Homo sapiens: one gene and its partner. The protein of the gene in region 2 purifies or fractionates together with the protein of the main gene of each other region. This does not show direct contact. Each region holds a gene or a part of one and is shown on either strand. Other genes may lie near its edges. The genes, in order: PPP1R7 and CD5.

Region 1 (3,815 bases), on a different chromosome or scaffold from region 2:
CTCCCTGCTAGCTGTGGTACCCAGGTTGGCCCCTGCCTGTGGTCTCAGCACTCTGTGCCCCATGCTCTGTTCCTAGGCAGGGCATGCAGAAGGAATCGTTACGCTTCAGGAACATTGCTTCAGTATCAGCTCGTTTCCCAAACCTGCTCCCTAATTTTTTGCCAGGTGCCCTTTCCCTATCACCTGGTCCTCTGTCTCTGGACTCCTTATTCCTGTTGTTTGGTTTCTTTGTGTTGTTCCCTGGCTTCTTTGCCAACTCCCTATGCACTAATTCAACCAGCCTACCACCAGCCACACCTTCCTTCAAGGGTGGGCTGCACATAGACCCACCTGGACTCATTGAGGCTCCCCCTGGCCTGGTACATCTTTATCACCTGCCAAATTCTGGCTCTGATCTTCCCAGACATGCTCTGGTATCCCATCATGACACTACTCAAGACCCAGTGCCACTAATAAGGGGCAAGGAACATTTGCAGCAGGCCACCTGTGTTCTAGGGAAACTTGGATGACCTTTTAAAGTGGGGAAAGGAGAAAGCACAGGACATAAGCAGGGTCAGCAGCACGGCTAGAGGAGAGACAAGGAAGAATGATGCCTTACACTCAGCATGAATCCTGGATTAGACTGAATGTATCTGAGGACACTACTACATTCCCAGCATCACAGGGTGACACCTGTGCCGCAGTCTCTGCAGGGCCACGTGCTAGCGGAAAGGCAATAAACCTTAGGAGATTTCTCTAAGGGAATCCTAGCACTGAAGACTTCCACTCGGGGATCATTTCCCAACCCCTTTAGAGGAACTGCAAAAACTTCTTATATTCTGTTTCTCTTCCTGCTGACTCCACAACACTACTCCTGAAACCATACCTGTGACAAGACAAATACAAGGCAAATTCCAAGATGACTAACTGCAGAAACCCATCCAACATTTCCTTCTGTTGTGCTGGAATATATCTGTAGGGAATGCGTCTGCCTCTCTGCTGAGGTTTGCAAACCATTTGGTCAAATGACAATTGTAGGTTCTACCCATACCTAGATCAGGGCTTCTCCAACCTTTGTGTGTACTGCAATCACCCGGAGTCTTGTAAAGCAAAGATTTTGACTCAGTTTTCATCTGGGCTATGGTGGGGCCCAAGATTTTGCATTTCTAACAAGCTATGTCAATGCTGCTGATCTGTGGCTCACGCTGAGGAGCACAGACAACACCCAATACAAGTCTACAAGAGCGCCCACCCCAAATCTCATGATGTGCGGAGTCACTCAGCATGAAGGCTTACAGGAGATTCTTGTATTCATTCATAAGACATTTTAATCAGTGAGACCAGTTTAGTCAAAGTGTCATCAACCCCAGCGTGTATTAAACTTACCCAGAACTCTTGCAGCTCTGTTAGATGGCTGATATTTTCAATCTTTTTGATTCTATTTGATGCAATGTCCAACATCGTGAGTTTGTTCTAAAAGAAGGAAATAAAATGTTTCCTGGATTACCTCTGATCAACAGTGATTTGCATGACCACGCAGGCAGTGTCAAGTGCTGACCTTAGGGCTGCAGGTGCACTGCCCTCTCTGCCCTCACAGGGTAAGGGCATGCTATGGAGGGTGACGAGACCTGCTTGCTTCCTGCAGCCCTCCCTGGGACAGTGTTTCCATCAGAGCCTGCCCAGCTATCTCCCTGAGCTCTCCTGATCGCTGGAATTTGAGACTGTGTCAGACTCCAAGCCCAGTCCTCCCAGATCCCTGTCCATTGAGACAGACCTAGTGAGACTGATGGTCCCAGGAAGAACCGAGTAACCCCCTGACGCTCTGAAGAAAGGCTGACAATTGTAGAAACATTTACTTAGTGCTCATCACGAGGAAATGTACGACCAAGTAATCTTCAAAACAAAGTTCCTCTCTTCATTTAGGGATGAGGAACTTGGGGCTCAGTGGGGCTAAGAATCTGCCCAGGCGCACAGTAGCAGTGGGAGAGGCAGGACTCTCAGACCCCAGGCCTACACTCTTGTCTGGGAAAAGGGTCCCGGGAGCATAAGTGCAGAGAAGGGACCCATGCTGAGGACTGGGTGCTGGGCCTGCTGAGCACCTGCTGCAGGGTGTGTGCCCCCACTGGGAGACAAGAGTGTGTTTTTAGGATCTTCTACTCTGAAAATGCACATCAGTTACTCACTTTCCAATACATGTTAGCTAAGCCTGAGTAATAATTTTGTTTCTCATCAAAAGGAAAACATTTACAAGCTGTCTGAGAACCTCTGACAAAGTTCATTCCCTTCTCTGCCCTCACGCTCTGCTCCCTCCTGAGTCCCTTCCTTGGTTTTCTACTGCATTTTTGGTATTCCAATTCCAAAGCCTTCTAAGTTTTAAGGGAAAGTTAAAAAATTTCTCAAAAGCAAATACTCCTCCCCCCATCTCCCCTGAAATGTACCCAGCCAGTAGCTTTCCCAATTCGAAAGCGCTATGGCTGTGGCCTGGGAGCTCCTCTGGCTGTACCACCCTTGCTGCCTTGGCGCCCAGCACCCCAGCTGGCACCAGCTGCGTGTGTCAAGTCTGACGCCACTCTCCAGCAGGCTATACGTGGCATGCTGCCTAGGAGGTGCCTTCAAACCACCCCATCTCGGTGCCCTGGTCAGGTCTGCTCACAGAGTATCAGGCTCAACAGTGTGCGAGGGAGCTCAGTGGGGCGGGTTCAGAGCAAAAAGGACTGCAGGAAAATGTTGCAGAAGACGCGACTGTGGGTAATCCAACGACACACCGCCTGGCGGTGGGGCTGGAACAGGCCTCTCTAGCACGGACGGCAGCTCTCCCCCGCACTCTGCACCATTCTGAGATGCTCATGGTCATCTGGTATGCAAGCCCAGAAACTGGCAAAATGAAAGTGGCCTGGAACACACGCAGGATTTGAGCCTCGTGAGGTCCAAGCACCAAGGCTCAGCACGAGGGGCAGAGCCGGTGGTGGGCTCTGGCTGTCAGAACCGGTCCATCACCTCTGAGCTCAGGGATCCATGTAGGCACTCAACACTATTTCACGTTTTTCTACAGGAGCTGGACAATGTTGTGAAAACTCATCCAAAAGCAAACTAGTAAGAACTGCTTAAGAAACAGAAAAAAAGAATGGAACAGGGTGAGGAGAGCAGGCACACCAAAGGGCATGACACAACGCCACAGAAACTACACCTGTCAGGGACCACTGCAAACATATTCTAGACCAACGGGAGAGCCCAGAGCTGGAGAAGACACGAAGAACAAGACAGGAGTCGTGAGACACTGGGATGGGGGGTGTCGTCTAAGTTCCCACCTGGGACAAAACTACATTTACTTTCTTATTTCCCACCATAAAAATAAATTCCAGATAAATTAAGAAACAAAACTTAGGAGAAAATATTTGTCTGATCTTTAGTTGAAAAAAATGGCAGAAGAAAGACTGTCACATTTGATCATGATGAAGATTACAATAACGTAATTACCTTTAATACAACAATTTTTTTTTTTCTGTTTTGTTTCAGAGGCCCAAGAATAATCTGGTGTTTAACCAAGATCACAGTGTAGCACTTCTACTGGTAAAATTCTGAACCACACTTCTTTCCAGTTTTCCTGGGACTGGCTGCTTATGTGAACTGTGCTGCAGATTGTCTGTCTCCCGGTGGATGCTTGGTGGTGACTGCAGGGCCTTGGCTCAGGGAGGCCAGGGTGCAGGAGGGCACCAGGGCTCCCTGCTGCGCACCCCACCCGGCCCCAACCCCAGCCCCTGCCACACAGTCCTCAGCGCCATTCCACTGCAGGCACGTCTCGACTTACCACTCTAAACTACACAGGTGAACACTTG
Region 2 (4,503 bases):
TGGAGATCACATTCACACACATCAACATGGAGATCACACACACATCAACATGGAGATCACACACACATCAACATGGAGATCACACACACACATCAACATGGAGATTACACACACATCAACATGGAGATCACATTCACACACATCAACATGGAGATCACACACACACATCAACATGGAGATCACACACACACATCAACATGGAGATTACACACACATCAACATGGAGATCACATTCGCACACATCAACATGGAGATCACACACACACAACATGGAGATCACACACACACATCAACATGGAGATTACACACACATCAACATGGAGATCACACACTCATCCACATGGAGATCACACACACACATCAACATGGAGATCACACACACATCAACATGGAGATCACATTCACACACATCAACATGGAGATCACAAACACACATCAACATGGAGATCACACACACACATCAACATGGAGATTACACACACATCAACATGGAGATCACATTCACACACATCAACATGGAGATCACACACACACATCAACATGGAGATCACACACACACGTCAACATGGAGATCACATTCACACACATCAACATGGAGATCACATTCACACACACAAACATGGAGATCACACACACATATATCAAATGGGGATTACACACACATCAACCCCAACATGGAGATCACACACACAACACAGAGATCACACAAGTCAACATGGAGATCATACACACACATCAACATGGAAATCACAAACACACAACATGGAAATCACACACACATATCAACATGGAGATCACACACACACATCAACATGGAGATCACACACACATCAACATGGCGATCACAATCACACACATCAACATGGAGATCACACACAACACAGAAATCACACACGTCAACATGGAGATTACACACACATCAACATGGAGTTCACACACACATCAACATGGAGATCACACACACTCAACATGGAGCTCACACATACACCTCAACATGGAGATCACACAACACAGAGATGACACACACAACACAGAGATCACACAAGTCAACATGGAGATCTCTCTCTCTCTACACACACACACACACACACACACACACACACACACACACACTGGCACAAGCCCAGCATTCATGGCGCAGCCATCTCTTGTACTTGCTAGCAAAACACCACCTGTGGAAAGTCAGCTCAAACTTCCAACCTCATCCCTCACAAAGGGGGAATGGAGGGTTTGGTTTTGGCTTTCACTGGAGTCTGCAACAAGAACTGGCATCATGCTGCCCATTTCCCGCCTCTCCCCACCCAGACCCCTGCCTCAGGGACGCCTGTCCTCAGCCCAGCCCTCAGCTGCAGCCAGGCCTTCAGCCTCCGTAACCCCCGCTCAGGGTCCCCACCCCCTGCAGCCCTGTCCCTCCAGGATGCATGGCCTTGTCCTGTGTGGGGGTGGCCGAGAGCACTGCCCCAGCCCTGGGTACCTTGGGCAGGAAGCTGGCAGAGGCCAGGGCTGCCATTCAAACAGGGGCAGGTGGTTTTGCCAGGAGGAAGTTGACAGTTCAACTTCAAACATGGGTGACGCAGGCCCCACACTGCCTGCTCCCCGTCCCACCCCTCCCTGAGCACGCCACCCCGCCCTCTCCCTCTCTGAGAGCGAGATACCCGGCCAGACACCCTCACCTGCGGTGCCCAGCTGCCCAGGCTGAGGCAAGAGAAGGCCAGAAACCATGCCCATGGGGTCTCTGCAACCGCTGGCCACCTTGTACCTGCTGGGGATGCTGGGTGAGTACCCCTCCCAGGTGTCCTGCGAACACCCGGGCTCGCTCCAGTGCAAGGAAGGAGTTCCCAGTTTTACCCAAGGCTGACTCTGGGATCCACATGTCAGCCCTCTGGAGCGTTGTGGAGATTTGGGGCCACTGGGATCCCTGCCTGCCCCCACTAAGCCGCAGCTTGGCCCTCTGTCCTGCATGTCCCACCCGCCAGGAGCACAACCTTGCCTCTCTCATGCGCTGTTGAGAACCCTGCTTTACCCTTCCAGTGCAAGAGAGACTGCAGGGGGGACCCGCATTTGATGGGGCCCAGACAACTTGATTCCTAGGCTGAGTTGGATTTTAGCAGAGCATTCAGGCCTCCCTCTGCGAGGTCCCCCACTGACAGCCCAGCCTTTACTTGGTCGCCTCCAGAGACATGGAAACTCGCCGTCTCCGAGGCAGCTCTGATGATGCTCTGGACAGACAGTGGGCCGAGGCAGGGTGGAGCCGCCTCTGAGGACGATGTCTGAGCAAATGTCAAGGACTCATAGCGGAAGTCCTAGGCCCTCTCATGCCCAGTCCTGGGTCAGTCCCAGAGGGGCCCAGCCAGGCCGGCTGGGATGAGTACACGCTGGGCCTGCTCTCACTCCAGCCCTGGGTTGTAAGCCCAACCCTGTGTGACCTCGGATAGGTCCCCAAGCCTCTCCAGGCCTTGATCTCCCCATTTATGAAATGTGGGGGTTGGGGGTGTGAACTGGATGAGGCCTGACCCACTTCCTGAGGATTTAGAAGGTCTGGCAGGGTGACAGAGGTGCGTGACTCTGGGCTGGAAACAGGAGGATGCGAGCAGCTTCCAGGCTGGCAGGGAGAGGGTCCGGAGGCCTTGCCTGCCTGAGCAGGGAGCCTCAGCAGCCTTCTAGGGAAACCGGGTGTGCAGGTGTGAGTGTGGGGGAATGCATGTGTGTGTGTCTGTGTGCATGTGTGTGAGAACTGTGTGTGGGGGAATGTGTGAGTCTATGTGTGTCTGTGTGAGTCTGTGTGTACGTGTGTGAGAACTGTGTTGGGGGGTAATGTGTGACTCTGTGTGTGAGTCTGTGTGTGAGTCTCTGGGCATGTGTGTGAGTACTGTGTGTAGGGGAATGTGTGAGTCTGTGTGTGAGTCTGTGTGTGAGTCTCTGGGCATGTGTGTGAGTACTGTCTGGGGGGGAATGTGTGAGTCTGTGTGTGAGTCTCTGGGCATGTGTGTGAGTACTGTGTGGGGGGGAATGTGTGAGTCTGTGTGTGAGTCTGTGTGTGAGTCTCTGGGCATGTGTGTGAGTACTGTGTGTGGGGGGGGAATGTGTGACTCTGTGTGTGAGTCTCTGGGCATGTGTGTGAGTATTTTGTGGGGGGGAAAGTGTGAGTCTGTGCGTGTGAGTCTGTGTGTGAGTCTGTGTTCATGTGTGTGAGAACTGTGTATGGGGGAATGTGTGAGTCTGTGTGTGAGTCTGTGTGTGAGTCTCTGGGCATGTGTGTGAGTACTGTGTGGGGGGAATGTGTGAGTCTGTGTGTGAGTCTGTGTGTGAGTCTGTGTGTGGGAGTCTGTGCGCATGTGTGTGAGAACTGTGTGTGTGTGCTTTCATGAGCACAATGCGGCCTCCAAAGGCAGGATTATCTCCCCAACACATGTGACAATGGCACCTGTGCACACATGTTCACATGGTTCTTCTCACATGTAACAACAACAGGTACAAAATGCCTTCTGTCCCAAAGTAAGAGGCCTGAGACAGACCTCTGGCTGGCTTCAGGGACCCTGCTAAGGAGGGACCAGGCCCTTAAACCCCCCACCTGCTCCTCACCTCTGGCCTCAGACTTCATTGAGATAGGGCGGCTCCCAGCTGAGTATGGGAACCCGTGTCCTGCTCTAGGGCCCTCCCAACTGAATCCCATCATGGGTGAGGCTCCTGATGGCACCAGGCAAGTCCCCTGGCCCAACACAGGCCACAGTCAGGAAGACTTGGAGGTAGCCCCTTCACCCCAGTATGGGGACCTCCTTGAACCCCAGGAATACTCAGTTCCCAGTGTCTGAGTGAGCCGGTGGGTACCAAGCATTCCCTTTGTTCAGTGGGTAACGGTTTACAAAGCACTTTTAAAGCCATTTTCTGCTGCAAGCTTCACAACAGCCAATGAAGTAGGTGGGCCCATTGGCCCCATTTTACAGTGGGGAAAAGCGAGGCCCAGGAAGGCCGAGTGCAAACCCAGGGTGCAGCAGCTGGTGCACAGCCGAGCTGACCCCAGCCCAGCATTCCTGCCTTCACAGAGGCCCCTCCCTTAGCTAAAAGGGAAGGCCACCAAAGGCACTTCCGTGTGCAGGAAAATGGCCCTGGGACACAACCTCCACCAGCAGAGATACAGCCACCAGAGCTGGGGACACCAAGGGCCAGGGTTGCTGGAGTCAAACAGTGCAGGCACCCTTTGAGCCATTCCAAGGAGAGAGGCAGCAATGCCAGAGCCCTGGGGACACCACAGCCTCCTGGCTGGCATCGGGGCTTGGGGACCTTTGGATCCTGAGGCATGAAGATGCCCCCAGCAGGCCTGGGTGCTAGTGACAGGCCAGGGCTTCCCACAGTTGCTCCCCTCTCAGCCCCAGCCTGCCTGGACAGCTGCTGGCAGTGAGGCGGGGAAGCGGCTCTAACACAAACTGCACGTCCCTGACTGGCCTAGCCGATGCGACTCTGAAAGCCAGCACTGGGACGTGGGAAAGTCATGGACTCTGCAGT

Evidence for each region.
Region 1: the proteins of CD5 (region 2) and PPP1R7 purify together in Homo sapiens (affinity purification with mass spectrometry; one large-scale study listed by BioGRID and IntAct). This does not show direct contact.

The regions. Positions count from the first base shown.
Region 1 is NC_000002.12:241,167,418-241,171,232, reverse strand, and holds part of PPP1R7 (protein phosphatase 1 regulatory subunit 7), read right to left. Parts: intron 3,558-3,815; exon of another isoform or gene 3,496-3,557; intron 1,453-3,495; coding exon 1,366-1,452; intron 1-1,365. UniProt on the Homo sapiens protein: Regulatory subunit of protein phosphatase 1.
Region 2 is NC_000011.10:61,100,841-61,105,343, forward strand, and holds the start of CD5 (T-cell surface glycoprotein CD5 isoform 1 precursor), read left to right. Parts: upstream 1-1,648; 5' UTR 1,649-1,720; coding exon 1,721-1,775; intron 1,776-4,503. UniProt on the Homo sapiens protein: Lymphoid-specific receptor expressed by all T-cells and in a subset of B-cells known as B1a cells. Plays a role in the regulation of TCR and BCR signaling, thymocyte selection, T-cell effector differentiation and immune tolerance.